4 linked regions of the Homo sapiens genome follow. The protein of the gene in region 3 interacts with the protein of the main gene of each other region in a pairwise test. Each region holds a gene or a part of one and is shown on either strand. Other genes may lie near its edges. The genes, in order: RUSF1, SMPD2, SLC10A1 and FA2H.

Evidence for each region.
Region 1: the proteins of SLC10A1 (region 3) and RUSF1 interact in binary tests that used the Homo sapiens proteins (3 or more experiments, as listed by UniProt).
Region 2: the proteins of SLC10A1 (region 3) and SMPD2 interact in binary tests that used the Homo sapiens proteins (3 or more experiments, as listed by UniProt).
Region 4: the proteins of SLC10A1 (region 3) and FA2H interact in binary tests that used the Homo sapiens proteins (3 or more experiments, as listed by UniProt).

The regions. Positions count from the first base shown.
Region 1 is NC_000016.10:31,491,318-31,498,603, forward strand, and holds part of RUSF1 (RUS family member 1), read right to left. Parts: intron 5,634-7,286; coding exon 5,532-5,633; intron 2,620-5,531; coding exon 2,549-2,619; intron 2,471-2,548; coding exon 2,286-2,470; intron 2,208-2,285; coding exon 2,150-2,207; intron 1,732-2,149; coding exon 1,661-1,731; intron 1,024-1,660; coding exon 880-1,023; intron 770-879; coding exon 692-769; intron 1-691.
Region 2 is NC_000006.12:109,435,553-109,443,734, reverse strand, and holds the start of SMPD2 (sphingomyelin phosphodiesterase 2), read right to left. Parts: upstream 3,012-8,182; 5' UTR 2,614-3,011; coding exon 2,564-2,613; intron 2,379-2,563; coding exon 2,282-2,378; intron 2,184-2,281; coding exon 2,107-2,183; intron 1,776-2,106; exon of another isoform or gene 1,762-1,775; coding exon 1,668-1,761; intron 1,526-1,667; coding exon 1,436-1,525; intron 1,193-1,435; coding exon 1,110-1,192; intron 984-1,109; coding exon 851-983; intron 759-850; coding exon 654-758; intron 469-653; coding exon 315-468; intron 219-314; coding exon 1-218. Other genes in the region: PPIL6 (probable inactive peptidyl-prolyl cis-trans isomerase-like 6), read left to right, coding at 3,145-3,279, 7,536-7,631. UniProt on the Homo sapiens protein: Catalyzes, at least in vitro, the hydrolysis of sphingomyelin to form ceramide and phosphocholine. Also hydrolyzes 1-O-alkyl-2-lyso-sn-glycero-3-phosphocholine (lyso-platelet-activating factor) in vivo.
Region 3 is NC_000014.9:69,793,995-69,802,037, reverse strand, and holds the start of SLC10A1 (hepatic sodium/bile acid cotransporter), read left to right. Parts: upstream 1-4,796; 5' UTR 4,797-4,882; coding exon 4,883-5,238; intron 5,239-8,043. UniProt on the Homo sapiens protein: As a major transporter of conjugated bile salts from plasma into the hepatocyte, it plays a key role in the enterohepatic circulation of bile salts necessary for the solubilization and absorption of dietary fat and fat-soluble vitamins.
Region 4 is NC_000016.10:74,771,633-74,779,394, forward strand, and holds the start of FA2H (fatty acid 2-hydroxylase), read right to left. Parts: upstream 3,189-7,762; 5' UTR 3,124-3,188; coding exon 2,854-3,123; intron 1-2,853. UniProt on the Homo sapiens protein: Catalyzes the hydroxylation of free fatty acids at the C-2 position to produce 2-hydroxy fatty acids, which are building blocks of sphingolipids and glycosphingolipids common in neural tissue and epidermis.

The sequences.
Region 1 (7,286 bases), on a different chromosome or scaffold from region 3:
AGAATCCATCTTTTTTTTTTTTTTGAGATGGGGTCTCTGTCACCCAGGCTGGGGTACAGTGACACAATCTGGACTCACTGCAACCTCTGCCTCCTAGGCTCAAGTGATCCTCCCATCTCAGCCTCCTGACAGTCCCACAGGCGTGCATCACCATGCACAGCTAATTTTTTTATATTTTTGGTAGAGACAGGGTTTCACCATGTTGCCCAGGCTGGCCTTGAACTCCTGAGCTCAAGTATCTGCCCGCCTTGGCCTCCCAAAGTGCTGGGATTACAGGTGTGAGCCACTGTGCCCGACAGTCTTTTTTTTTTTTTTTTTTTTGAGAGAGGGTCTTGCTCTGTCACCCAGGCTGGTACAATCATGGCTCACTGTAGCCTCGACCTCCCCCAGTTCAGGTGATCCTCCCACCTCAGCCTCCTGAGTAGCTGCAACCACAAGAGCAGAACCACACCTGGCTAATTTTTGTGTTTTTTTTGTACAGACAAGGATTTGCCATGTTGCCCAGGCAGGGTCTCAAGCAATCTGCCCACTTAGGCCTCCCAAGGCACTAGAATCATAGGTGTGAGCCTCTGCACCAGGCCCAAGAACCCAAGTCTTTTACCTTTCAGGTGAAAGGGTGGGAGTGGGGGAAGGCGGGGCCCCCAGGGACAAGGCTTCAGGGGCCAAGCAGCCATGGGCTGAGGGATGTTACCTTTCAAGAACTTTGGGAACAGCATGTCCAACACTTCGTGTGTCTCCTTGACGACGACCCAGCTCTCTTTCTTAGGACCTGGGTACGGGGGTGCAGAACCAGAAGCTCTGTGTCCTCCAGCAGGACAGAGTTTGTCCTCTCTCCTCCCCACCCTGAGGCATCAGCAGTCTAAATCTTGAGGCACTTACCTGCCCGCACCCGGTTCCTCAGCTCCTCCAGCTCTGCTGGAAGGGGTCCATCTCCCTGCAGGGCCCCAAGCATCAGCCCATGTGTGGCGGCCCTTAGGATGGTCTTGGGGCCTGCCTTCTGGTTCAGAACTACCTGTACCTGGTCTGGAGGGACCCAGAGACAGACTGGTATCAGGGAAGGGCCACCTCCCAAACCCCTTCTATCCCATCACCCTGCTTCCCCTGTCTGCCCCAAGACCTTGGCCTGGCACGGAAGGCTAGCACCTCACCCTTTCCTTTCCAATTCATCTCCTGTTGCTCCCCAATGTTCGGGCCAAACTGACCAATTTCCAAATACAATTTCCCAGCCGCTCACTGGGCTGGGTCTATTTTGCATTTCTTTAATGGCTAGTGAGAATAAGCACCTTTTCACACTCAACCAGCGGACCAGCACACTCAAGGACTTGTTTACCCAAGAGGCAACCCAGGATGGAGAGAAGGGTGGTTTCCCACGGACAGCAAAGGTCATAGCCTTCCTAAGAGTGCTGCAATGTAGCTTTGCAGTCACATTATTTGATCCTCATAAAAACACCGCAAGGAATAAGGCAGGTACTGTTAGCTCTGTTTTACAAAGCGGTGACATGAATTTCACTGGGGCATTGCAGCTGTAATTTGAACGGTCTAGAGCAACCCCCAGAACAGGCAGCCTCCAAACTGCCCAGAGCTCGGGGCCCTAGGTTGGAGGAATGAGAGGCTGACCTGGGAGGGTGCGTCTTAGGCTGGGAGAATGAGGCACACTCACTTTGTGACTGGTCCCAGCAGAGGAGGTAGGATTCTTGGTGCCCCTCAACCAGCTGCTGCAGCTCAAAGACACTGTGGGGGAGAGGACAGTGCAGTGGGGGTGGAGGACAGCAAAGGCAGGCATGCCCAACCAGCCACTGAACAGCCACCCAGTGAACTGAAATGATCCAGGCTTCACTCAGGTCCCCTCGCTTCCTCTCTCCCTCAGCCATTACCCATACACACCAAATCCATCCTTTCTTCCTGTATCCAGTCATCCAACTTCCCCATCTACCCATCCTTCCTTCACCCATCAAGCACATCTCTTACATCTGCTTCATGTTATACACCCTTTCCTTCCTCACACACCCACACCAACCCCATGTCTGTTCAGCAGCAATGAAGAACCCAGGACAGAGAGGTGGGGCCTTGCCAGGGAGGCCAGTGTGTAATCGGAGTGAGGGGAGTGTGGGTGGCGGTGGTGACGAGCGGGAGACGCTAGGCCACTCACCTGGAGACCAAGCGGTGTAAGGGGACCCCCAGGGATAGAGACGGAGCTGGCCAGAAACCTGTGGGAAGCTGGGGTCAGGATGCCTAGGCAGTGGGAGAGGTTGAGACACAGGACCCGAGACCAGGGGCAGGGTCACCTGTCCACAGCGGCTCCATGCGATTGGCTGCAGTTGGGTCGAGTACCTCTCCCCTCTGAAGGTAGTGCTTCAGGACCAGCCGGAGCCGGCCTTCGTTCAAGGTCTCCATGACCAGGGCTCGGACCGCGCGGTAGTTGGCGTAGATGTGGAGGGCAGTGAGGAAGAAGAAACATCCAAGGCTGAAGCTGGGGTGAGAGAGTGAGGTAGCTGAAGTGGGCAGAGGCCCAGCTGGGGTTCTCCTGCCCACCCTGCTTCCGGCTTACCCAGGGCAACCTGACACCAGAGGGAGCATCAGGAGGCTGACCAAGAGCCCCGCCAGGTTCACCAGCGTCTCCTGGAAAATGGCAGAGGGAGAAGGAGTTGGAAGGTGCCCCTCCAGGCCAGACTGAGTGCCCGAGTGCCTTTCACCTCATCCTCCCTGCTCCACAACCTCCCAGGGCTCCTTACTGCAATGTGGGTAAATTTTTAGTTTTTGGTGGGTGAAATGTCATTTAAAAGATGCCAGCTCGAGGTGGCTCACACCTGTAGTACCAGCACTTTGGGAGGCTGAGGTGGGCAGATCACTTGAGTCCAGGAGCTTGAGACCAGCTTGGGCAACATAGTGGGACCCTATTTCTACAAAAAAATTAAAAATTTGGTGGGGCATAGTGGCTCGCGCCTGTAATCCTAGCAATCTGGGAGGCCGAGGTGGGCAGATTCCCTGAGCTCAGGAGTTCAAGACCAGCTTCGGCAACACGGTGAGACCCATTGCATTTTTGTAAAAATACAAAAAACTAGCCAGGTATGGTGGCGCGTGCCTCTACTCCCAGCTACTCAGGAGGCTGAACTGCTTGAGCCTGGGAGGTGGAGGTTGCAGTGAGCTGAGATCACGCCACTTCACTCCAGCCTGGGCAACAGAGCAAGACTGTCTCCAAAAAAGAAAAAAAAAAAAATTAAGCCATGATTGCACCACTGTACTCCAGCCTGGGAGACACAGTGATACCCTGTCTAAATACATATGTGTATCAGTTGCTTTTTTGCCCAGGTAGGTGCCCTCGGAATACCCTTGAACACATCTTGTCTTGCAAGTCACCAGAACAGACCCACACTCAGGCACTCACTAATGTGTACTTTTTTTTTTTTTTAAAGAGCGAGGGTCTCGCTCTGTCACCCAGGCTGGAGTGCAGTGGTGCAATCATAACTCACAGCCACCTCAAACTCCTGAGCTCAAGTGATCCTACCACCACGCCTCTGCTAATTATTACTGCATTTTTTGGTAAAGATGGGTCTTGCTATATTGCCCAGGCTGATCTTGAACTCCTGGGCTCAAGCAATCCCCACCTCAGCTTCCCAAAGTGCTGGGATAACAGGCATGAGCTGGAATAACTTTTATTTACTGATTTTAAAAAGTTGACTGCTCCCCTCCCACCAAGCTCCTTTGGTATGCAGTAACTGGCAGATAGATTTGCAAAGGGGTCAAGGAACCACCCGGGAAGAAAAGGAACAAGACCCACACCTCTTCCCTTGTGTATCAATGTTAGGAGAACACTCTGATGGCTGGATTGAGATCACTCTAGGGGAAGGGACCCCAGGCTACCTGCCCCCAACTCATCATGAGGGAGGAGTCTGGATTGGTGCCCCTGACTACTGGGCTCCCAGGGAGAGCTGGTCCTGGCATAGAGAGGACCCGAGACTGGAGAGCTCTTCTCAACCAGCCCTCCTGGGAAGGGCATATGCTGTGGGAATAAACGCTGTGGGTGTGGCAGGAAACTGGGGATCAGGGACCTGGGGAGTTCAGGAGCTCCTCTCTCCCAGGTGGGAAGAGTCATTTCCAGTGGCCACATCCAGTGACAGCAAAGCTGCACTGGCAGAAAGCTGGAGTCTGCTGCGGGACTGACACATTCCCAGGTTAGTCCCGGATATGTCCCTGGCTCTGTGGACCGAGGAAGCCCTGGGGTCTTGGGAAAAATGGCTTGGGGTTAGGGGGAGGTCTGGGGACCAGCGAGAGAACAGGAGAGGGACACCAGGCATGGAGCTGGGAGTCCTGCGGTGAGGGACCTGTGCTGTGCTTCCTGCTTGCTCCTTAACAGCCTGTGGACTTAGGTTCAGAAGAGACAATGGGTGGAATAAGCCCGAGCATCCTGAGAGAAGGGACTTCCCCAGGGGCCCCCAGGGAGATGGGACCTCTCCATGCTTTATTTCTTCATCTGTACTAAGGCAACCATGAGCATTTACTGCACATGCCCACTGTGAGAATTTAAAGAGTTCCCAGAACCAAAATACTTGGCACATGGTTAGTGCTTAATAAATATTAGCTTGGGTTAAGATTATTGAGCCAAACAATGGAAGAGAAGGCCAGAAAGTAGGAATGCACAGAACAGCAGTTTCTAAATTGCTTCAGTGTCAAAGAAAACCATCTCACACTTCTGGGACTTCCCTGGGCCTTAATTTCCTCATCTGTAAACTAGGGATAAAGTAGTACCTACCTCAAAGGGTTGGTGTGAGAGTTTGTTTGTTTTTGAGACAGGGTCTTGCTCTGTCACCTGGGCTGGAGTGCAGTGGGGTGATCTTAGCTCACCACAGCCTCCACCTCCTGAGCTCGAGGCTGGGACTACAGGTGTGCACCACCACACCTAGCTGAAGTTTCTTTTATATATTATGTAGAGATGGGGTCTCGCCGGGTTGCCCAGGCTGGTTTCAAACTCCTGGCCTCAAGTGATCCTCCCACCTCAGCCTCCCAAAGTGCTAGGATGACAGGCGTGAGAGTTAAGTGATGCAGTACACGTAAGCACTCAGCACGGGGTTTGTAGAGGTCTAATCCATGCGGAGTTCAGCCTTAGGGGTGTCCCTACCCCAACTCCAGGCTCCCTAGGGTGGGCAAGGGGGCTGGGCCAGCAGGCCTGCTAAACTGCTGAGTGGAGGCCCCAGCCAGTGACCCAGCAACCCCACATGCTGGGTAACTCTGACTTGCCAATTGCCTTGACATGTGGGGCCTCATGTGATCAGAACATCCAGCTTGCACGGTGGGGTCTGAAGAGGGCAAGGCTGAGGGCTTGCTCTCAGCCACACAGGTGGCGGGCAGGGCCTGAGATCAGCTCGGACTTGCCGCCACCAGAGCCCAAACCCCTACTCCTGCCTGGGTGTCTTGAGTCAGCAGGGAGCACCCATACTTCTTCCTGTGTGTTCCTGGGCCCTCCAGGGCACTCAAGTGGCTTCTCTCCCCTTCCCCTCCCCACTCCACGCCCTCCCTCCAGCTCTGGCACTCACCTGGCTGCTGTCCTTGGCTGACACGTCAGCCATGTTGTTCCTCCGAGCCTGGTGCACGGTCAGGGCAGCCCGAGTGGCCCCACCAGCAACACTCACGATGCACTGGGTGGGAGGGGAAGAGAGAAGGTTGGCAGAGACACGTGTCCTGGTAACACAGGCACTCAGACCAGCTGGAGAAAACCTGGCCCCGGCCAAACTCTGAATGCTGTCCTTGGCATCTAGTTCTCACCTTGATGCCCCCTAGGCTCAACTTCCCTGTCCTGTTCTAGGAAACTGGAGTCCCACCTGCCACTATCACCTTGGGGACTGGCCTCACAGAAGCTCAATTTCATTCCCCAAGGTGGAGGCCCAAAGATCATTCTCAGCCCAGAACTCCCAGCCCTCCAGCTCCTGCTTGGGCTATACCCTCCCCATTACTGGCGGGAGGCTCAGGCTGGTTTCCAGCTTCATGCTTACATCTGCCTCCTGTAATTCCTCTACTCTCCTCCTGCCCCAGTTAAAGCTGTCGAAACCTACACTGATGGCCCTGACCTCCCAGGGTACCCAGATCTCTCCCTCTGAGATCGCAGGATAAAGCTAATCAAGGAGGGTCACTGGTCACTCACAATCATCCCGAGTTCATCAAAGCTCTTTTACTTATTACTATTTTTATTTATCCTTAGTTTTTGAATACAGACAGAGTCTCCCTGTGTTGCCCAGGCGGGCCTGGAACTCCTGGGCTCAAGAGATCTTCCCACGCCAACCTCCCAAAGTGCTGGGATTACAGGCGTGAGCCACCGCCCCTGGCTGAGGGCTCTTTTAGATGCCAGACATAGACTTAGGTGCTGTGATACAAGTCAGACCCAGGCCCTGCCCTCATGGAGCATACAGATCAACAGATAATAAACAAATAAACAAGTTAATACGCAGGCAGAGGAAACAGTCTGTTCAAAGGCCAGAGGAACGAGGGACAAAGTGAGGGCGAAGTGGCTGGCAGGGACCTGACCACACGGAGCCTGGCAAGCCTGGTGAAGGTCTTTCCCTAAGAGCAATGGAGCAGCAGAGTGACCTGATTGCTTTCCTCTTTGAAAGGATCACTGGGCTGCTCTGAGAGAGGAGCGGCACGGAGGCTACCTGGGAAGCAACGGTGCTCTCTCAGCAGTGAGAGGTGGTGACAGGAAGATGGAGGAGAGAATGGACTGGAGATTTTGAGGAGGGAAAAATAACAGAACTGAAGGTTCAGCCGAAGGTGACAGATAAGGGGAAGGGGGAAGAGGAGGAGGTGGTGGCAGTGGTGGTGGCGGCAGCATAGATGACAGCCAGGCTGGCTTCTCTTGGTGCAGCTGGAGATGGAGGTTGTGGAGAGGGGAACTCTAGAGAGGGGTCTTAAGAGGGAAGCTCATGGCCCTGTTCCATTCCCTTGTTGGACAGATGAAGAGACTGAAGTCTCAAAGGCAGAGTTTGAAGCAAAAGCCAGATGGCACAACCCTCGGTCCATAGCTACAGCCATGCTTTTCTCTGGGGTTTCCTACCCTGTTTAGGGGTGCTCGTAGCATTTAGGCTTGCAACCAAGGAAGCTAAATGTCCTCTACCACAAGGAACCGTTGCACCCCAAATGCTAGTACTTATGGAGAAACACGGCCCTAACGTGATTTTAAGTTGACACATGGGCCTTGGAATGGGTTTTCCATTTTCTTGAGTTTCTCCTCTGGGCCAGGGACTTAACTCTGACAGGATATGCTCTTTACTGAACCATGCCAGGCCTCAGTGTCCTCA
Region 2 (8,182 bases), on a different chromosome or scaffold from region 3:
CCACAGCACCAGCCCTACACTGGGGGTCCAGAGCAGTATGGCAGCTTCCCCGGCCCCTCCTCCAGCCGCCAGGACACACAGCAGTGCCAGGAGAAGCAGCCCCAGGCCAATCACATAGCTAGCGAAGGTGGCCCACCAGCGAGCCTGAGCCATGCCCAGACCCAGCTCCGTCCAGGCCTCCTTTAGCACACACATCAACGGCGACCTCTCTGCTGGTCCTACAACAGAGCAGGGCAGTGGGGCAGGAGAGAGTCAAGAGTGGAAGGGCTGCTTCAAGCGGGGCAAGGGCCAAGGAAAGGGTGGGGGTGACTCACCGTGGGTAGAGCTGGGGTTCTGCTGTGGGGGGCTGTGCCTCACAAACAGAGTAGCCATCAGGGCTTCATGATCAGAGAGGGGGGTGCCCCTGTGAGGGTCAAAGCCTGTAGTGGTTTCAAAACTCTTACAGGAGATGTAAAACCCAGAAACTGCCTAGGAAAAGTAAGGGCCAGAGAGAAGCTTATATATGAGGGCCTCTTCCCAGAGAACCAGCTCCCGGCTACCCCACTTTCCACCCATCAGTGGTCCAAGACTAGACTAGCTGAGCAAAGGATCTACACAGGTTAGTAGACAAAGAGACACAGCATATGAAAGCATGTTGAAGGGAGGAGCCTGACCTTGTAAAGCACGTAGTCAATGCGGACACCAAAGGGAAATGGCTTCAGCTCCTGCTGGCTGACGTAGCAGTTCTTGGGTACCATTGTGTTGCCTTCCTCAGAGCCCTAAGGGAATCATTGGCTCATGCTAGGATGTGGGGGAGAAGGAGGGAGAGAAGCTGGGGATATAGGTGGGGAAGTAACAGGCAAGTCCTCACCTTGAAGTCCCGAGTTTCAAGATAGGCATCATGAAGCCCTGTCCACTCCTTCAGCAGGCAGCAGCCCAGGTCTTCTGGGTGCATGTTGAGGTCTCCACACAACAGAACCACGTCTGCCTTCTTGGATGTGTGGCTGGGGGAACCAGGTTGGTGAGGCGGGAGTTCTTCCATCACCAGCTCTTCCCCATGACTGGGGCCTTGTTCACCCTCAGCCCCTGGGTCCCATCCCACTTCCCATTTCAAGCCCAGGCTCACACACTGGATGAACTGGGCCAATTCCCAAGCTTGGGCCACACGATGTGCTAGGTAGATGTCCTTCTGTCGATTGTATTCGGCATGGAGCTGAGCAAGATAGATGAGATCACAGCAGATAAGACTGAGGGTCCCAGGGGTATGTCTGAATCAAGCCTGTGTCTGTCACTTGGCATGGTGTTTGGTATACAATGGATAAGCCTTGCCCATTGCTTCCTTATAAGATCTTGCCCCCACACCTCATCCCCAGGTATGAGAGCTAGAGAAGTACCATCTCTCTGTCCCAGGACTGGGCTGCATGTCCCAGCCCTAGGCACTGCCAGCTTCACTCACATGGGTCACATAGGCGTTGAGCACCATGCCACTTAGATGGAGCACCAGCAGCCCCACAGCCTTCCCACTGAACCAGTCACCATGATGGATCTGCAGGCAGGAGGAGATAGAAACTCAGGGCACCGCCACCATCTTTCTGCCCATCCCCTGCAGCTCTCAGAGGGCTGCCTCCTCTACCTTGTATTACTGGAGGTGGGGAAGGGAGGTGGAAGAGGTCAAAGGTCTGCCTTACCATGTAGGGGTAGCCATTGAGAGTGTAGATGTGCTGGGTAAGCTCCTGGATTGGATGTTTGGAGAAGACACAGAGGCCACTGCCAATGATTCCGCTGAAAGCCAAGCCCTGCTTAATAACCAGAAAAACAGGGAGAGACACCCAGCCTTCTTCCCCTCCCTTGTCTTCCAGCTCTGATCAGCTATTTTTTTCTTTTTCTACTGCTGGGACTAGCCCTAGAACCAAGGCGACAGCCTTTGGAGGAGTATAGGGCAGCCAGAAAACAAAGCTGAAATGGGCTGAAGTCATAGGACCTTCTTGGTTCACCCTTCTCCTTCTCTCACATCCAGAGGGAGAGGAGGCTGGAGGAGACTGGAGAGTGCAGGCAGGATAGGGAAGGGCTGGCAGGGCCAAGAGCCTCCTGGGATGACAACAGGCTTCAGGCCAGTGGGCTTCTCACCTCCGGAAGTGGTGTGCAGCTGGGTAGGTAGGTGACAGCTTCTGTCTCAGGTACTGGAAGTCCTGCTCACTCCACACCTGAGGGAAGCGGTGAGGATGCCTGCTTGGTCTTTCCCCAGTGGGACGGTCTGTCCCTCCTCCCAGCCTGGGTTCCGCACCGTGCTGCACAATCTCACCTCCTCCAGCAAAGCCAGGTCGAAGCTCTCCTGGTTCAGAAAGTCTCCCAGGCGCCTCATGCGGTCGGCCCGGTGCTTGCTCAAGTACGGAATGCCCCTAAGGAAGGGAAGAGCGGGGCAGGGGAGGCGACTGCTGGGACCACCGGCGCTGGGGCCAGATGTGGACTTTGGAGGTTCGGGTTTTCCCTACACCCTGAGATCGTGGGGCGGGATAGGGGGAGGAAGGCTGCATGGGTGCGAACGGAAGGTGGCCCCCAGACCGCACTCCGCAGACGCACTCACCAGCAGTTGAGGTTGAAGATCCGCAGTCGCAGGGAGAAGTTGGGCTTCATGGTTGGGGAGCTCCAGGGGCGCTAGGCGGCTCGAACTCTCCAGCGACGGCCGCGGTGGGGACGGGGGCGGCCGGCGGCGCCTTCTCCCCAGACCGTTCCTTCTTCGCAGGCGGCGCGCACAGGTGGGCACCAAGCCCGCGTGGCTCAGGTCGGGCCCGACTCCCGCGTTCCCCCGGCAACCGGCCGGCTGTTCCCAATCAGGCGGGCCGCCAACCCGGAAAGGCGATCCGCTGCCGAAATCCGGGCGCCCAGGCTCGGTAAGGGCCGCGCGCTAGGACCCTGGGGGTCCGGAGAGCGCCCCCGGGTGGGCGGCTCCCGGTTCCTTTTCCTCCAAGCTCGTCCCCGGCGGTCGCGGCCGCCCGCGCGCCGGCGGCCCAGCAACAGGCGCAAAGTTGAGGAAAGGCCCAGCCGCCACGGGCCGCCCTCGACCCGCCCCTGGGCCCCGCCTCCTGCGAGCGGCGGAGGCGGGGCCGCGCGGTTGCCGGAGCGACGCGCAGTGTTTGGGGTCACCGGGCGTCCCCGGGCGCGGCCATGGCAAGGCCGCAGCCGTGCGGGCCCCCGCACGCTAGGTGCGGCTCGCCGTCGCTGCCGGAGCGGCCGCTGCAGGTGAAGGTGGTGGGGCTCTTCAGCTGCCCCAACTTTCAGATTGCGAAGAGCGCCGCTGAGGTAACCACAGAGAAACCTCCGTCGTGGGCGGCCCTCCCCGCTACCCGCTCTCGGCCGCGTGGACTGCAGGCGCCGCGCCTCCTCGAGGCGGCGGGGGTCGAGGCCCCACCGGCCGAGGAAGGGGCTGGCGTGTCCTGGCCGGGCGGGCTCCGTCTGGAGGACCGGGAGGAGAGTATAGGGGGGCAAGTGCGGGTCCGGGGGCGGGCGTTCCACTTGGCGACTTTTAAAGGGAGAACTGAGCGAAGGAAGGGTTCAGAACCGCGCTGGGAGATAAGGTAATCCCCTCCGAGACACACACACACACACCCGCAGATTTTGTTCTACGTCAATTTTTTCTTTAATTAGAGATATTTAAATTTATGGAAAAATGATTACTATATAACTAGCTAATTTTTACAACCCCGCCACCTCGGCCCAAGCGATTTTTGTTAACTATTCATGCGGGGAGATTCTTTTCTTTGAATTTTATAGAGCCGTCACTGCGTTCCAATCGAACTAGATGCTTCACAAGTGCTTTGGAAAATCATTTCTTTGTAAACACTCAGAACGATACTAAAGGAAAAGCACTTGAGGAAACTGGAAGAATTTGGCCAGATCAGTCATGCTGCAGCACACTTACAACCTGAAATGCAGGAGAAATGTATGAAATGTCGGCATGTAGAATTCAGCCCTTCTTACAGGGTTTGCTCCAGAAATGCTGTCCATGGCAAACTTCTCGCCGAAGCTCACTTGACTCCAGGACCATGCCTTAATTAATGTTTTTAACTCCCGAAGTACCCAGCTGGATACTTGACAACAAAATGTTCCCAAATAGAAGATATCTTGGCGCGGTGACTCACGCCTATAATCTCAGCACTTTGGGAGGCAGAGGCGGAGTTCTAGACCAGCCTGGCCAACATGGTGAAACCCCGTTTCTACTAAAAATACAAAAAATTAGCCGGGCGTGGTGGCGGTCTCTGTAATCCCAGCTACTCAGGAGGCTGAGGCACAAGAATCGCTTGAACCCGGGAGGCGGAGTTTGCAGAGAGCTGAGATCGCGCCATTGCCCTCCAGCCTGGGCGACAGAGCCAGACCCCGTCTCAAAATAAATAAATAATAAAAAGAAAACAAGTGATCAGAAGTCTGTGAAAATAATACATGAATCATCAAAAGTAGAAATTGTGGTCTGTGTTGCTTGGGCAGACGGGATCAGCAACCTTTTATTACCAAAGTTAATGGCCATGAAGTTAATTACAAAGTTAATGTATTAATGAGTTTCAGAGATTTTTTTTCTCTTTTTTTTCGCTCTTTTTCTGAAGGCACATATTTTCTGTGCCGACTCCACATTGTAAAGAAAGTGTTGACAAGTTTTTTTCTGTAAAGTCCAGATAGTAAATATGTTAGGCCTTCTTGGCAATAGGGTCTCAGTCACACCTGTTTAGCTTTTTCCTGTGTTGCAAAAGCAGACACAGAGATGGAAATGAATGACAGTATTCCAGTAAAACCATATTATGGACACGAAATTTGACTTGCGTATAATTTTCACATAACGTGAAATACAATTCTTTTGATTTTTTAGAATTGTTTACAGGCCGAGCGCGGTGGCTCTTGCCTATAATCCCAGCACTTTGGGAGGCTGAGGCGGGCAGATCACGAAATCGGGAGTTCAAGACCAGCCTGGCCAACATGGTGAAACCCCATCTCTACTAAAAATACAAAAATTATCCAGGCATGGTGGCGGGCGCCTGTAATCCCAGCTACTCGGGAAGCTGAGGCTGGAGAATCGCTTGAACCCGGGAGGTGGAGGTTTCGGTGAGCTGAGATCGTGCCACTGTGCTCCAGCCTGGGCAACAAGAGTGAGACTCTGTCTTAAAAAAAAAAACAAAAAACTGTTTACAAATCTAAAAATTATTCCTCTCCAACCCCTGATGTAGAAGACAGTAGGTCGAGAAAACAATATCTTTATTGTATTAATAATGTCAATTTTCCCTTTCTTAAACTTTTACCTACTGTAGTTATATTCAAATATGAAAATTCAGCTAGTTTTTTTTTTCTTTTTTTGGAAGAGATGGGGGTCTCACTGTGTTGCCTAGGCTGGTCTTGAACTCCTGGGCTCAAGCAATCCTCCTCGACCTCCCGAAGTGCTGGGATTATAGGCATGGGCCACGGTGATGCCCAGCCTCTAGTTCTGTCTTAATAAAGGATATCTGAATGTATTCCTAACATGATAATTTGTGAGCGATCCCAGATGCCTGATTAACTGACAAAGATTTAGATTTGTGTTGAATGTTCCCAACACAAAGAAATAATAAATGTTTGAGATGATGGATATGCTAATGATAAGTATACATTATATGTATTGAGACATCACTACCCCATAAATATGTGCAATTATTATATGTCAATTGAAAAATAAAAAACAAAATGTAAAAACCAAACACACAAAAGATTGAAATTTGTAGAGAATAGGAACAAATATTGCATACATTTTCATTTGGATATAGTCCGTTCTACAACAAATACTAAATTACTAAAAAGACATGTGTTTCATTTGAAAACTGCTGGATTTATAGTTTATTCCAGATGGTTAGAAATAGCAGTCAACCGGGCCAGGTGCGGTGGCTCACGCCTGTAATCCCAGCACTTCGGGAGGCTGAGGCAGGCAGATCGCCTAAGGTCAGGAGTTCAAGACCAGCCTGGCCAAGACCAGCCTGGCCAACATGGTGAAACCTCGTCTCTGCTAAAAATGCAAAAATTAGCTGGGCGTGGTGGCGGGTGCCTGTAATCCCAGCTACTTGGGAGGCTGAGGTAGGAGAATTGCTTGAACCCAGGAGACGGAGGTTGCAGTGAGCTGAGGTCACACCGCTGCACTCCATCCTGGGCAACAGAGCGAGACTCCGTCTCAAAAAAAAAAAAAAAAAAAAAAAAGAAAAGAAATAGTAGTCAACCTGCAGTATTGCCTCAAACTGAGCACAGACACTGGAACTGAGAAACAAGATGCGTCAGCTATTGCTTGGGGACAGAAGGAAATGGCCTAATTATTGTTGCCCTCTTCATGAGTATTCCCAAAGTAGGCCACACTCACATCCTGGTTTTCTCCCCTTGGAATACTCACCCCTGATGACCTGTGCTAGGCCAGCACCCTCTTTTGGACCATGACAGGACCTCCAAGCACTGTCCCTAGCAGGGAAGTGCCACCTGCAGCAGCTGTCACTTTTCCCTTTGGTCCATCTACTTCCCAAACCCACTCAGAAAAGAGGCCTGTTACTGCTTCACCTGTGTTCTCTTGCTTTAGAGGGAGACAAAGTATAACGAATATCAAGAACCAAGCCTGGATTGCTAACCAATAAGAATTTTCTCTGATTCCTGCAGACAATCTATGTCAAACTAGAACATATTCCGTATCTAAACCTAAACTGATTTCGTACTTCTCTTTTTCCTAAGGGGTATAACCACAACGTTATTATCTTTTTGGTCATCCCCCATTCATCAGTGAATTAAAGCAAGAACATTTATTTATTTATTTTAGTTATAAGTAAAGTATCTGTAGATCCACCGAGGTTTAGCAAGAGTTGTACTTAGGGAAAAACTAGTCTTAAAGAACATAGCATATCACAAAGCTATTGGCGTTAACCCATTTATGTATTCCTCTCTTTATTCAGCTGCTGTGTGCCAGAGATTGTGGCAGGTGGGAATATAGGAATACTAAGACAGAGTTTTTTTTGTTTTGTTTTGTTTTTTTGTTTTTTGTTTTTTGAAATAGAGTCCCACTCTGTCACCCAGGCTGGAGTGCAGTGGCGTGATCTCTGCTCACTGCAACCTCTGCCTCCCAGGTTCAAGTGATTCTCTTGCCTCAGCCTCCCAAGTAGCTGGGATTACAGGCACACACCCACCATGCCTGGCTAATTTTTTTGTATTTTTAGTAGAGACACGTTTTTGCCATGTTGGCCAGGCTGGTCTCAATCTCCTGACCTCAGGTGATCTGCCCACCTCAGCCTCCCAAAGTGCTGAGATTACAGGTGTGAGCCACTGCGCCCAGCCTCTAAGACATAGTTCTTGGCTTCGAGGCACTTATACAAATAAGCTCCCTGGACTGGGGAGCAACTTGGAGGTGAACACAAGGGCCTCTGACAGCGAGCAAGGAATATCTCAGTCGGACTGCATGGCCTGGGCTTGTGTTGTATAAAACTTCTGGAAACCCCGTAAAAATTGGGGAACATGATTTTGACTTTAAAAGAGAACTAACTCTAAAATAATTATTCTATTTCGAAATCCAGAATCTGAAGAATAATCATCCATCCAAATTTGAAGATCCTATATTAGTTCCTCTTCAAGAATTTGCATGGCATCAATATCTACAGGAGAAAAAAAGGGTAAAGGATATTTGGGGTGTGGGGGATATAGACAACAAGCCAAGTTTTGCCTGAATTATTTATGCATTGTTTTGGAAAAACTGAAAGAGTAATTTTAGTGTAACTAGATTTTATTTCTCTACATTACGTACTTTTCCTAAATTGTATTAATCATTTACCAAGCTAGGTGTTTTGTTTTTGAGACAGGGTCTCACTCTGTTACCCAGGCTGGAGTGCAGTGGGGCGATCTTGGCTCACTGCAGCTTCAACCTCCTGGATTCAAGCAGTCCTCCTACCTCAGCCCCGCAAGTAGCTGGGATTACAGGCACACGCCACCACACCTAGCTAGTTTTTGTATTTTTTTAACAGATGGGGTTTCACCATGTTGCCCAGGGTAGTCTCAAACTCCTGAGCTCAAGTGATCCACCCACCTCGGCCTCCCAAAGTGCTGGGATTACAGGCGTGAGTCACTGAGCTCGGCCACCAAGCTGTTTTTTGTTCTTGTTTTTGTTTTTGACTACAACATTTGGGCTGGGTGTGGTGGCCCACACCTGTAATCCCAGCACTTTGGG
Region 3 (8,043 bases):
AAAGTGCTGGGATTACAGGCATGAGCCACCATGTCCAGCCTCTACAGCCACATTTATACCATAAGTCACTACCATATTTTTTAATGGCTACATTCTTTTAAATGGGCCATAACCAATCACCTACTAATAGATATTTAGGTTATTTCCAATAGTTCACTATTACAAAGCAATGCTGCAGTGAAAATCTCTTTACGTAGATCCTCAAGCAATTATCTCTATAGGATAATTTTCTACAAGTAGAATTCTACTGTCAAGAGCAATGGCTGACTGAAGGCTTTTTATGCCACTTCAGAATCTGGGAAAATAGCTGACTTTTGCCAGAGATGAAATTAAAATGTCCCTTAAGTAAAATTTACACAGCCACCACTACCCCCCCATGATTGTTTGGATGTTGTGTTTGTTGTGTTGCTTGCTACATCCAGCCTGTGAAAGAACAAGTCTAGGCCAGTTTGGAAAAAATATGCAATCACAGGATCTTTTCCAGTCAAAGCTTTCAGGTCTCAAAAAGCAGGCTAACTCGGGAGACAGGATGAGGCAAAAGAAGGAGCAGGTCAGAAGAGCAGCTGGGGCCCGGAACCAGGCTGGGCATGAATACCAATTGTACCACTCACTAGCCATGCAAATTGGGCAGATTATTTAACCACTCTAAGCCTTTTCCTAACCTATAAAATAAGGATAGCAATAGCATCTTATCTCATAAGGCTATTGTGAAGACTAAATAAAAACGTGGGCATTTAGTGCTATACATTTCCCTCTTAACACTGCCTTAGCTGTATCCCAGAGATTCTGGTATGCTGTATCTTTGTTCTCATTAGTTTCAAATAACTTATTGATTTCTCCCTTAATTTATTTGCCCAAAAGTCATTCACGAGGAGGCTGTTTAATTTCCATGTAAATGTATGGTTTTGAGCAATTTTCTTTGTACTCAATTCTATTTTTATTGCTTTGTTGTCCAAGGGTGTGATTGGTATAATTTTATTTTTGTTTTTTGCATTGGCTATGAATTGCTTTATGTCCAATTCTTTGGTTGATTTTAGTGAATGTGCCATGTGGCAATGAGAAGAATGTATATTCTGTTGTTTTGGGGTGGAGAGTTCTATAGATGTCTACTAGGTCCATTCAGTCAAGTGTTGAGTTCAGGTCCTGAGTATCTTTGCTTTGATGATTCGTCTTGCCTTGATGATCTGTCTAATACTGTCAGTGGGGTGTTGAAGTCTCCCTCTGTTATTGTGTGGGAGTCTAAGTCTCTTCATGGGTCTCTCAGAACTTGCTTTATGCATTCACCCCCTCTGGAGGATGCAGCAACAAGGCATTATCTGCAGAGAGCAGCCCTCATCAGATACTGAATCTGCCAGCACCTTGATCTTAGACTTTCCAGCCTCCAGAATTATAAAAAATAAATTTCAATTATTTATTTTTTAAAAAGAACTTGCTTTATGAATCTGGGTACTCCTGCGGTTGGTGCATCTATATTTAGGACAGTTAGGCCTTTTTGTTGATTTGAACCCTTCACCATGATGTAATGCCCTTCTTTGTCTTTTTTCATCTTTGTTGGCTTATAGTCTGCTTCGTCTAAAATTAGGATTGCAACCCCTGCTTTTTTCTGATTTCCATTTGCTTGGTAGATTTTTCTCCATCCCTTTATTTTAAGCCTATGGGTGTCATTGCATGTTAAATGGGTCTCTTGAAGACAGCATGCTGTTCGGCCTTGCTTCTTTATCCAGCTTGCCACTCTGTGCCTTTTATTTGGGGCATTTAGCCCATTTACATTCAAGGTAAAGGGAACACTTATACACTGCTGGTGGGAGGGTAAATTAGTTAAACCATTGTGGAAAATAGTGTGGCAATTTTTCAAAGAACTAAAAACAGAACTACCATTCAACTCAGCAATCTCATTACTGGGTATATACCCAAAGGAATATAAGTCATTCTACCATAAAGACACATGCACACGTGTGTTCATTGCAGCACTATTCACAATAGCAAAGACATAGAATCAACCTAAATGCCCATCAACAGTAGGCTGGATAAAGAAAATGTGGTACATATACATCATGGAATCTATACAGCCGTAAAAAAGAATGAGATCATGTTCTCTGCAGGAACACAGATGGAGCTGGAGGCCAATATTCTTAGCAAACTAATGCAGGAACAGAAAACCAAATACTGCATGTTCCCACTGATAAGTGGGAGTTAAATAATGAGAACTAATGGGCACGAAGAAGGGAACAACAGACACTGGGGCCTACTTGAGGGAGGAGGGTGGAAGAAGGGAGAGAATCAGGAAAAATAACTATCAGAACTATCAGGTACTATGTTTAGTACCTGGGTGACAAAGTGGTCCGTGCACCAAACCCCCATAACACAAGTTTGTCTGTAACAACAAACCTGTACATGTACCCCTAAATCTAAAATAAAAGTTAAAAAGAAATGTAATTTAAATCACAGCATCCATCACACAGCATGTGCTCAACAACTCTCAGGTATCATTAACATAACACAAAAAGATCTTCCTGTTTCCAAAATTGTATTAAATTAGAGTAGATTCTGAGGGGATATGGGGAAAAGAATGGAGGGTGTCAGGTTCCTGGAAGAGATTTTTCCATTCTCTGCAAAGTCACATTGCTAGGAACAGAGGGAATGGGAAGGAGTGGGAGGAGGGGCAGCCAGGGCAAGAAACTGTTTTCTCAAAGGGAAAAACTCACAGTAGGAGGTGGAAGGATTTTGGGTTCCTGAGAAGAGGTGAGGAGGAAGAGTTGATAGAGACTACGTGGTTTAGAATCCAGGTTACAAATGTGTTCATAGGAACTCTTCTTCTCTTTGGATGTGCACAATAGACACATGCCCAGACCCTGATCTTTAACAGATATTGGTCAATTCCTCCTCACCCTTTGGCATCAGGCAAATGTGTAAAAACCTAACGTCTCCCTTTGACTTCAAGGCCTCATGTACGGTTGCACAAGACATCTGTAGAGTGGCGTCCCTAGCATTGTGTAGTGCCCAACCTGAACAGGTGTACCTGGCAGCCCTGCATGGCCTCCACCCTCACGTGCTTCCATATTGCATTGTGTACCATCTGGCCATCTGTGGTCTTGTACAGACCATCAGGTCCCTGAGAACAGGAACATGAATTATATAGTTTTTTTTATTTATTTATTTTTATTTTTTTTGCCTCCCATGGTGCCTGGTACTCAGTTAGTGATCAATAATTCTCCCCTAGCAACTCTGTTCCCTTCTGATTAGCCCCAGGGAGAGGAAGCAGCCTCCTCTGAGACTCAACCCTACCCTGTGGGAACGCTCAGTCCAGGCATCACATCCAGTGCCCAGTCCTCTGCCTGCCCTCCCTTTGATACCAGCCCAACTCAAGCACCAGGAAATCATTAGCAGAGACTCTCAAAGGAAAAGAGGCTTCAAGTTCATGTCACCCAGGGCCACAGTATACGGCCCCGCAGGCTGCCCACCGCGCAAGCCCAGGGAGCAGCCTTTTCATGGATATGATGCAATATGTATGGATCCTGCCATCCAACCCTTATCCAAGCAGGATTCCAGAGGCCTCAAGGCCATTCTTGGAGAGCTCTCATTTTCAGGTGGTTCCTTGCACCAAGCCAAAATCTGTCCCCACCTCCACCCAACAGTGGTTCACACCCTGGTCCCTATTCTGCCCTCTGGAGTCCTACATACAAAGCCTAATCACCTGTTTCAGACCCCACCCAGGCCTCCTAGGTTCCAACCAAGCCAAGAAGCAATTGTGTTTCTGAAGGAGACCCCTCCTCCCTTGTCCCACCTCTGCAGTGGGGATAGATGGAAAGAGCAAGGCCTAGGATAACCTCACACACTAGGTGGCCCCGCCCCTGGCATGCCCACCTCTCTCTGCTTCTGCTCCACGCCCCAAGCCTGGCTCCCAGCCTGAAACACACAGGCCCAGTGCAAAAGTAAAGCAATCAGGAAGTCAGGAAGAAAAGACTGCATTCCTGCTTCCTTCTCAGCAAGTTTTGCAAGCAATGGGCCTCCTCGGGCACAAAGCAATCTCCACAGCCAGGGTTCTCTCAGGTTGCTTTTCGGGGAAAGAGCCTCCAAGCTTCCTGAGAGCCCACCCACCATCCCAGCTGGTTATTCCCTCTGATGGTAAGCATTCCAGGTAGTGTGGAGCAGCCACCACCAGTATTCCTCCCTGGGACTCATACAGTCCCAGTTTGGGGATAAAACAAACATTTCCCCAGAACAGGCAGGGAGGATACTGGCATCCTCTCAGCTCCCAGGAAAAGGGTCATGGACACATCCCCTCCTGGAGGCCAGTGACATTGCCTGTCCCACACCCCCTTGGACTATGCTACCTGTATCTAGGAACCAAAGGCAACACCCAGCTCCTTTCACTCTCATGGGTTCTGGGGACAAATGATAACCCACTGGACATGGGGAGGGCACCTTCCCCCAACCAAGAAACTAAGGAATCAAGAGCGGAGCTGGGAAAAGGAGCTGCAGGGAAGGAGATGGGCTGGACCTAGATTCAGGTGGGCCCTGGGCAGGTCCCCAGTAACTGAATGAATGCCCATGAGGCACACTCAGTGGAGGGCAAAGGGGAGAAATAAGCCCAGAAGCAGCAAAGTGACAAGGGAGGAGTACAAGTAGCACCCAGGAATCCAGCAGAGGTCAGGGAGCTTGGGAGAGCTAGGGCAGGCAGATAAGGTTCTGGGCTGTTCCTCTTTGGGGCGACAGCCAGAGAAATAGCTCAGATAGTTGCATAACCCTTCTATTTGCCCAGAGCTTTTGTCCAGAAACTCTCTGTCCTGAGAGGTGATTAAAGAAGGCATCCAGCAAGAACTGCACAAGAAACGGAGTCAGCCGGAGAACAAGGAGTGGTCTTCCACTGCCTCACAGGAGGATGGAGGCCCACAACGCGTCTGCCCCATTCAACTTCACCCTGCCACCCAACTTTGGCAAGCGCCCCACAGACCTGGCACTGAGCGTCATCCTGGTGTTCATGTTGTTCTTCATCATGCTCTCGCTGGGCTGCACCATGGAGTTCAGCAAGATCAAGGCTCACTTATGGAAGCCTAAAGGGCTGGCCATCGCCCTGGTGGCACAGTATGGCATCATGCCCCTCACGGCCTTTGTGCTGGGCAAGGTCTTCCGGCTGAAGAACATTGAGGCACTGGCCATCTTGGTCTGTGGCTGCTCACCTGGAGGGAACCTGTCCAATGTCTTCAGTCTGGCCATGAAGGGGGACATGAACCTCAGGTAGGCCTGGGGGTGAGGAGGGAACAGCCTGGGACAGGAGCTACATTAGATATGTCACAATTGAGGGGAAGAGCTGGGCTAAAGCCAGGAAAAGGAGTGAATGCAGGCTGGGTGGAGGCTAGGGCAGGGGAAGTCTGGCATTTATTGCCAAGAGCTTATGCTGGGATGGGGGCAGGAGTTGGGGTACGTCTGGTTTAGGCACCAAGCCAAAGGGACCATACTGGTCCAGGAAGCTCGTGGTGATCTCCTTGCTTCCAGAGGTGTCTCAAGGATTGTCTTAAAGGAGCACTGATTAAAGCCAAAGGAACCTCTGGAGAACTGCATCCACCTACAACAGTGGACAAGTTGCCTGCTTTGAGCCCAGAGATTTAAAAGGTAGTGTGATTCGTTCCAAACATCATCAGGGAGATCAAGGTGACTTGGAACCAAATGAGCACCTCAAATTCCTGCAAAGCGGGCAAGAATTTCCAAAAGGTCCTCCCAATTACCTGGTCATCTAAGATGTTTTCTCTTTAAAGTCCCTCATTCCCCATCAGATGCAATGACATTTCCATGCAAAGGCACAACCAGGGAGATCCTAGAGTTTCCCAGCACCCACTCCAGATAGGCCAGCCCCATCTCAGCCACCCTGATAAGGGGAAGACAGCAGCACCCCCTAACCCCCTGCCCAAAGCATTATAAGCAGAAATCAGCAAGGGCTCGCTCCTGGAGACGCAGCACACAGGGGCTGGTTGATGCTCATCCTTCCAAACTGGGGAGACTCTAGTCTTGAACATCTGCCAGAGGAGCTACTTCAGACCTGCTCCAGCTCCAGCAGCCTGTGCTGAAGCTAAAGAAAACTCACTAGCAGAAGCTCTTGCTTTCAGTGAAACCTCAGTCTCAAGCCAGTCCCCCCTGGTTTAGTCCTCCGTGGAGACGCTATTCAATGCCAGGTATAGCAGCAGAACCCAGAAAGTCCATCTGCTTGTGTCTGTCAGCACCCTACTCCTAGCCAAACTTTCCTAGGAAAACTAACCCAGTCAAGAAGCCCCTCCTAGTGATGCAAAATGACACTGGGACAGATTTTTTAAATGAAAAAAGTGAGAATGGCTGGGCACGGTGGCTCACACCTATAATCCCAGCACTTTGGGAGGCCAAGGCAGGAAGATCACTTGAGACCAGGAGTTTAAGACCAACCTGGGCAACATAGCAAAACCCTGTGTCTACAAATATATACATATATATTTAATTAGCCAGGCATAGTGGCACATGCCTGTAGTCCCAGCTACTTGGGAGGCTGAGATGAGAGGATCTTTGAGCCTACGAGTTCAAGGCTACAGTGAGTCATGATCACACCACTGCACTCCAGCCTGGGCAACAGAGTGAGACCCTGTCTCTCTCTCAAAAAAAAAAAAAAAAAGGAAATAAAAAAGTGAGAGTGAATGAGAGTTGGGGTTTAACAGGATCTGCCATCTGAGAAGCTCTGGGCTCTTTTTCCATATGATTCAGCCCTCACTTTAGTAGTCAATGGGAAGAGAGGCACAAAGAGGGCATTTGGCTTGTGCCATCACCCACGGAAAGGTATTTCAATGTTCAACTACCTCACTGTGAGAAAATGCTTTCCTCTGTCTAATCCACATCCTCTCTGCTACAAAGCAAGCCCTTGGTCTTGGATCTGGCTTCTGGACAAGGCTCATGGCAGCCTGTGTGTCCCAAGAATCCTAGAGTATATCTGAATTTTGGTGTATGAGGGATGCAGAAGTCAGGGGCCTGCGAAGGGGTACTCTGAGGGCTTTGTGTTTCTGTGGAAGAAGCAGAGCAGGGGACGTGGAAGGCAACTGTGCTTTTAAGTGTGAGTGGCCAGATGTCCCAGCCCCATCGCCAGTGGCCACTATTGAGGCCTCTGCCACAATGCCTACATTGCTGTGGCTCTAGGCCCCACCCAGGCAGAGCCTCTGGTGACTCAAGAACATGACCCCTCATGCTCTCCTGCTCAACCTCCTTGTCCAGACCCCTGATGACTGTCATTTTTACCTAGACCCCCACAAGAGATAAGCTCTGCTGGGACAGCCACCTTCTGCCATAAAACTCCTTCCCAACAAACAACCCTCCCATGCACATTAAACCATGTCTCAGATCCCACTGTCGGAATGGGAATCTGGTCATCTACCTTCATGTGCTGCCAGACTTCAAATCCCATTCCAATTTGGGACAACTTGTTACATGCATTATAATAATGACAACGATTATAAGAAACAGCCAGGCACAGTGCTAAACACCTTACCTGGATAAGTATATGTGATCCTCCTACAGCACCCTGGGGGACAGCATGTAACAAGTAGCATTTAGAGGTAAGGAAACTGAATCTTAGAGAGGTCAATACATTGGCTCCAGGTCTGGGTGGCTCCGGAACCTGTGCTTTTACTGAAATATCTTCCAGGTCAGCATTTCCACAAACAAAATGGCCAGACAGCCTCAAAGGCATGGGCAGACACCCGTGTCTCAGCAGCAAGTATTGTGTGGGAGCCAGAGCTTCCCACTTTTCAAAAGAAGGTAAAATATCCATTTTATGTGAAATCAGCAACTCATTCCATTTTTTTAAATGTGCAAACCAAACAATACATGTCAAAGGGCCAGCTGTAGCCCAAAGGCCCCAGTTTGAGATAAGCACAATACTCTACATCCCATTTAGAACTGGAAGGAATTGTAAGACACAGATCCCATTTTACACATGAAGAGGCTGAGGTCAGAGACTTGCCAGAGGTTTCCCAGAGTTTGTGGGAAACTGTGTCTCCCTCCACTCACTCTGCCTCATAGGTGGAGTCA
Region 4 (7,762 bases), on a different chromosome or scaffold from region 3:
GCCTCCTGCACTCAGTTTTTCTTATATCTTCTTCTAAACCCTTCAGCATGAGCCGACACCAAACACCAACCTCTCAGATTAAACTGGGCCCTCACCACACAATGCTGAGTCCCAGCATATTGTCTAGAGACTCTCCCGAATTCATCCCCCTTCCCCCCATGGTCACAGCCACTGCAGTGGCAGCCATGCAGCAGCATCCTGCCTGATCTCCTCACACCCACTTAGGCTGTCTCTGTTCCTCCTTGAAACTGCAGCCAGCGTCCTCTTCTAAAGATGCAAATCTGACCATGAACCCTGCCTGAACCTCTTCCCTGGCTTCCTTTTTTTTTTTTTTTTAAGATGGAGTCTTGCTCTATTGCCCAGGCTGAAGTGCAGTGGCGTGATCTTGGCTCACTGCAACCTCCACCTCCCGGGCTCACCTGGCTTCCCATTTTTGTTAGAGTCAAGTCCCAAATCCTGACCACAGCCTACGAAGCCCCGTGTGATGTGGCCCCGGCCGACTTTTGGCCTCCCCCCACATCCCTGTCTTTGCCCATCAGCCTCTGGCCACGTTGGTTTTATTTGCAGTCTTTTACTATGTCAAGCTCTTCCTGCCAGAGCCTTCACACGTGCTGTTCCCTTTGCCCAAAATATTCTTCCTGCTACATGCCACCTGGCTAAGCCCAGCCTATCAATCAGCTCTCAGTGTCAATGTCGCTTTCTCAAGAAGGCTCTCTATGCTCCTCCCCTCTAGATCCGTACTCTGATACACCATTAATTAAGCAACTATCATGTGATCTGTGTGTTCCCTCTCCTTCCCCATTATCCCATTAGCTCCATGAAGACAGGAACCGAATTCGTTTTGTTCATTGATATCTCCCCACACCCAGCACAGTGCTGTCAACCCATTAAGGAACCAGTTCCATGACTGAATAAATGATGGAGAAATTAGGCAGGATGACCCAATGAAAAGCCACCTGAAACAGTGGGTGCTAAGTCCTTTCAACCAAAGATCTAAGAGTAGTTGCTGGGCTCATCTTGAAAGCAAGAGTTAGAAGCAGGGGACAATTGTTGGTTTTCAGGAGTCCCCCTTATCCACGGTTTCACTTTCCATGGTTTCAGTAACCCACGGTCAACCTGGGTCCAAAAACATAATTAAATGGAAAATTCCAGAAATAATTTATAAGTTTTAAATTACTTTTCAATAGTAGCCAATGCCACATCACCACACCTGTCATTCACCTCACTCCAACCCATCATGTAGGCATCTTATTATCTTTTTTTTTTTGAGGTGAGCTCTCACTCTGTTGCTCAGGCTGGAGTGCAGTGGCATGATCATGGCTCACTGCAGCCTCCACCTCTCAGGTGATCCTCCCACCTTAGCCTCCCAAGTAGCTAGAATTATAGCCACATGCCACCACACCCGGCTAATTTTGGTATTTTTTGTAGACACAAGGTCTCCCTATGTTGCCCAGGCTGGTCTTGAACTCCTGGGCTCGAGCGATCCTCTTACCTCGGCCTCCCAAAGTGCTAGGATTACAGATGTCAGCCACTTTGCCTGGCCTCATGTTATCATCTTACATTATCACAAGAAGAGTGAGTACAGTACTATAAGATGTTTTGAGAGAAAGGGACCACATACAAATAGCTCTTATTACAGTATATTGTTGTAACTATTCTATTATTGTTGTTGTTAATCTCTTCCTATTGTTCTTAATTTATAAATTTAACTTTATCATAGATATGCATATATGGGAAAAAACATAGCATATATAGGATTCGGTACTATCTGTGGTTTTAAGGATCCACTGAGGGTCTTGAAATGTATCCCCTTGGACAAGGGGGAACTACTGTATATCTAAGCATGATGGCCCCATACCAGTCCCAGAGCCAGGCCTGGGGAACATCAAGAGAGTCGCTTTGCCTCTGGCCTGAGCCTACCTGGAATCCTGTGGACTAGGTCTGTCTCCTCCACCCGAAGACTTTTGGGATGGAGCCAGCATTGATTTTGGAGTCAGATACATGTGGCTTTCCCACTATTTAGCTATTTGACCTTAGGCGCATTAATCAGAGCCTCCCTGAGCCTCAGATTCCATATCCTGAAATGGGAATAACAAAACCTGCCCCAGGTTGAGTTAAGGACTTAAATACCATCGGGAGCTGGTACTGCACAGAAGCGTGCAGCTCAGCACACAGTCTGGTCCAAAGTGCTGGTCCCTTTTCCTTGGCAAAACTGGCTCATGCCTTTCATTTCACTCTTTTGGAGTCCCAAGCCAGCGTGTAGGACAAGAATATAAGGGAAGGTCTGAGAGGTTGGAGGACACAGTCCACCCCAGACATGGCCCAGGCAAGGCCAGGGCGGCACCAGGAAACCCAAGCTAGTGAGAAGAGTTACTGATCTGTGCCTCTTTGAAGCAGAAGTGAGGTGGGATGGGGAGGTGGGAACAGGTTGAGCCCATTATCCAAACAGAAACGGAGAGTGGTTGCAAAGAGGGAGAGGCCGATAAGTGAAGAGGAAGGAAAGCCGAGGCGTATGGGGGGCTGGGGACAGAAACGGGAATCCAGGTTGTCGGAGGGCAGGGGCTGCAGAAGGAACACGCTGGAAGGAGGGGTGCTGGGGAAATGGGAGAGCTGGCACGGAGGCGGGCCAGGCGGTAAGGGTGGAAAGGAAGAGCAAGTTCCTGGAGAGAGGAAGGAGGGGTTGGAGGGGACGACAGTGACCTGTTGCCTGGAGAGAAGAGAGGGAAAGCGAGGGAAGGGAGGGCAGAAGCTGTCACCTTGGGTCCTGCTAGAGGGCAAGTGAACGGGGCTCGCCCGGGAGTGGAAGGCTGACGGAGGCCTGGGTTGGGGTGGGGGGCCCCGGCCCGGCTGTACCTGCTGCTCCCCGCGGAGCTCTCCCACGTAGTACTGCTCCAGCCAGCGGCGCGCGTTGGCCGAGTGCCTGTGCGGCGGCCCGTCCAGGTCGGCGCTGATGTCCTGGCCCGCCCTGGCCCGCAGCAGCTGCTCGCCCCCCGGGTGGTGCCGCACGAAGCTGGAGAGGTCGTAGAGGCGGGCCCCGCGGCGGACCCAGCACGCGCCGGCCGCCAGGCGCCGCTGGACCTCGGAGGGCGAGAAGGAGGCGGCGGGGGGCGGAGCGGGGGCCATGGCCGGAGACCGCAGCTCCCAGCGCGCAGCCCGGCGTCTGCTCTGCTGCCACCCTGAGCGCCTCTAACATCCCGGGAGCCCCGCGGCCGTTCCGGGCGGGCCGCCACCGCACCTGCTCATTTGCATACCGCGCTCCCATTGGCCGGCCGGGAGCCCCGGCAGAGCCGCGAGGGGCGGGCCCGGCGCCGGGAGCTGCGCGCCAGGTGGCCGCGGACAGGGAGTGCCGCGCCCGCCAGGTGTGTCCCGCGCGGGAGGAGGGTGGGCGGACACAGGCGGAGCGAGTCTCCCCGTCGCGGGTGGTTGTCTGGGCGGACATCCTCGGTGGCCTGATCGCTGCTGGAATAACTTCAACTGCTTCCACGGAGGAGCTGGCCGCATGGGACCCTCTGGCTCCAGGAGGTGCCCGAGAGAGCGAGAGGCGAATGAGGTGCTCGCCTCGGGTGCAAATATTTGTTTGTTTTTAAAATTTCAGTAGCTTTTGGGGTACCAGTGGTTTTTGGTTACATGGAGGAATTGTATAGTGGTAAGTCCTGAGATTTTAGTCCACCTGTCCCCCGAGTAGTGTACATTATACCCAATGTGTAGGGTTTTGTGTGTGTGTGTGTGTTACACCCCCTCCCATTCTCCCTATTGTCCATTATATCACTCTGTATGCCTTTGCGTCCTCATAGCTTAGTTCCTACTTATGAGTGAGAACATACAGTGTTTGGTTTTCCATTCCTGAATCACTTTCACTTAGAATAATGGCCTCCAGCTCCATGCAAGTTGCTGCAAAAGACTTCATTTCGTTCCTTTTTATGGCTGAGTAGTATTCTATCGTGTATATCAACTACATTTTCTTTATCCACTCATTGGTTGATGGTTATTTAAGTTGGTTCCATATCTTTTCGATTGTGAATTGGGCTGCAAAAAACAAACATTCGTGTGCAAGTGTCTTTTTCATATAATGACTCTTTTCCTTTGGGTAGATACCCAGTGGTGGGATTGCTGGACCGAATGGTGAATCTACTTTTTCTCTCCTCCCCTCCCCTCCCCTCCCCTTCCCTTCCTTTCCCTTCCCTTCCCGTGACAAGGTCTCACTCTGTCACCCAGGCTGGAGAGTAGTGGTGCGATCTTGGTTCACTGCAGCCTCGACCTCCCGGGCTCAAGCAATCCTCTTACCTCAGCCTCCCAAGTAGCTGGCACTACAGGCATGCACCACTACGCCTGGCTAATTTTTGTATTTTTTGTAGAGACGAGGTTTCACCATGCTGCCCAGGATGGTCTCAAACTCCTGGGCTCAAGCGATTTGCCTGCCATGGCCTCCCATAGTGCACTTTTTTTTTTTTTTTTTGAGACAGAGTCTCACTCTGTTGCCCAGGCTGAAGTGCAGTGGCACAATCTCAGCTCACTGCTACCTCCGCCTCCCGGGTTCAAGCGATTCTCCTGCCTCAGCCTCCAGAGTAGCTATGACTATAGGCGCGTGCCACCACGCCCGGCTAATTTTTTTGTATTTTTAGTAGAGACGGGGTTTCACCATGTTGGCCAGGTTGGTCTCGAACTCCTGGCCTCTAGTGATCCTCCCGCCGCAGCCTCCCAAAATGCTGGGATTACAGGCGTGAGCCACCGCGCCCAGCCCCAAAGTGTACTTTTAGTTTGTTAAAGAATCTCTGTACTGTTTTCCAAACAAGTTGTACTAATTTACATTCCCACCAGCAGTGCATAGCATAAGCATCCCCCTTTCACTACATACACGCAGACATCTACTGTTTCTTGACTTTTTAATAATGTTCGAGGGCAAAATTTAATGGGGCACCCCAAAACTCAGTCATCACTATATCTAATACCTGAACGTAATATTTAAAAAATTATATTGTTGGCTGGGTGCGGTAACTCACACCTGTAATCCCAGCACTTTGGGAGGCCGAGGTGGGCGAATCACGAGGTCAAGAGATCGAGACCATCTTGGCCAACATAGTGAAACCCCATCTCTACTAAAAATACAAAAATTAGCTGGCTGTGGAGGCACGCATCTGTAGTCCTAGCTACTTGGGAGGCTGAGGCAGGGGAATCGCTTGAATCTGGGAGTTGGAGGTTGCAGTGAGCCGAGAACGCCCCACCACACTCCAGCCTGGCGAGAAAGAGAGACTCTGTCTCAAAAAAAAAATTATTTTGTTGCACAATGTGAATGTTCTTAATGCCACTGAACTGTACACTGAAAATGGTTGGAATGGTAAATTTATATTATGTATATTTTACCGCAATACAAAATATTTAAGAATGTTTTAAAAAATCACATTGTCAAAAGACAGGGGTGAGGGGTGGGGTTGGGGGCGTGGCATTGGCCACCTGTTTTTGTAAATAAAGTTTTATTGGAACCAGGGCCAGGGATTCCTGAGACAGGGATGTGAAAGTGCAGGGTTAGCTCCTGTTTTTATTTAAAATTTTGATATTTTGTCCATCATGGATTTTTTTGCATTAATCTTGAAGTTTTACAATACTGCATTAAAATATTATTTATCTTGGTTACTTTTTTTTGTTTGTTTTTTGGCATGCCTGTAGATTTTGCTCTCAGGGTTAGTGCCTCACTCCCTCACTCTAATCCTGGGCCCTGGGGAAGGACCTGAGGGGAGAACAGAGAACACTGTCTCCATTACAGAAGGGGAAGTAGGGGCCTACAGGAGTAAAGGCTGGGGGTGATGCTGTGTGGAAAGGAGGACTGAATTTGTTCATCACAGTTTTGTTTAGAACAGGAAAAACTTGGTTGGACATGGTGGCTCATGCCTGTAATCCCAACCCTTTGGGAGGCCAAGGCAGGAGGATCGCTTGAGCCCAGGAGTTCAAGACCAGCCTGGGCAACAAAGCAATACCTCGTCTCTACAAAAAAATTTTTTTTTTAAATTGAGGCCAGGCCGGGCGCGGTGGCTCATGCCTGTAGTCCCAGCACTTTGGGAGGCCGAGGTGGGCGGATCACCTGAGGTCGGGAGTTTGAGACCAGCCTGACCAACATGGAGAAACTCTATCTCTACTAAAAATAAAAAATTAGCCAGGCATGGTGGTGCCTGCCTGTAATCTCAGCTACTCAGGAAGGCTGAGGCAGGAGAATCATTTGAACCCGGGAGGCAGAGGTTGCAGTGAGATTGTGCCATTGCACTCCAGCCTGGGCAACAAGAGCGAAACTCTGTCTCAAAAAAAAAAAAAAAAAAAATTGAGGCCAGGTGCGGTGGCTCACACCTGTAATCCTAGCACTTTGGGAGGCCAAGGCAGGCAGATCCCCTGAGGTCAGGAGTTTGAGACCAGCCTGGCGAACATGGTGAAACCCTGTCTCTACTAAAAATACAAGAAAATTAGTCGGGCGCAGTGGCATGCCCCTGTAGTCCCAGCTACTTAGAAGACTGAGGCTGGAGAATCGCTTGAACCCAGGCGTCAGATGTTGCAGTGAGTGGAGATTGCACCACTGCACTCCAGCCTGTGTGACAGAGCGAGGCTCCATCTCAAAAATAATTGGATAAATAAATAATTTAAAAAATTAGCCAGTTGTAGTGATGCAGGCTTATCGTCCCAGCTACTGGGGAGGCTGAGGCCAAAGGATCTCTTGAGTCCAGGAGTTTGAGGCTGCAGTATCCTATGACTGCACCACTGCACTCCAGCCTGGGCAACAGAGTGAGCTCCATCTCTTAAACAGAAAACAAAAAGCAGAAAAGCCACACCCAGCTTTACTTGCTCAGCCACAGGGGATCCCACTTGAACTCATGATTTGTAATCAAATGCTCCTGGTACAGAGGCTAACCCATCCAGCTGGCTTTGTCTCTTTCAGGAAAGATATTTTAAGGATCATCTCCATTTGTGCCCTTCTGGGGCCAGGCATCTGTGCTGGGCCAGTTCAAGTATGGGAAGCCTGGCCCAGATGCCTCAGGGGTCCCCAGGTCAGAAGAGCCGCCCCTCTTCCCTCTCCCTTCTCTTCGGACTGACCCTCAGGGAGTAGGCGAGAGTTTTGCTGTCTGTGGGTCTATGGAGCACCTGTCCGTCAGGCCTAGAGGCCTCACATCAACAGAGTTGTTGCTTTTCTCAAGCGGTGAATGCATAAGTAGTCACCTTTACCCAACTTCCACACCTACTCTGCTGCAAATCCCGTTCATGTGCCAAAGCAGCCAAGCGCACAGTCGCAGGTGTACTCAGGCACTTCTTGCTGACAGTATCTGTGGGCACTCCCATTTGGATTTCTCACCATGGCTGTGAACTCCCAGTGTTTACAGTTGAACAAATGATTTGGCCATCTGTTCAGAATTGTAACACTCACAGTTCTTGCCCTAGTTATTTCCACTTCTAGAAATTTAATCTTACAGATATACTATATCAAGATGCATGAACAATAACATTAATTGCAACCTCATTTATAGACTAGAAATGATCAAATGTTCATCATGAGGGAGGACTGATTAAATAAACTATGGTATATTCAGACAGTGAAATACTATGTAGCCATTAGAAAAAATGAGGTAGATCTATGTGTACTAATTTAGAATAATCTCCAGAGTATTGTAGGGGAAAACAACAGGAATGGTGTGTATGGCATGCTAAAAACTAGTTTGCTATTTTTAATTATTTAATCTTTAAGATATTTTTATGAAAACAAAAACATATATGTAATTTTTAAAGC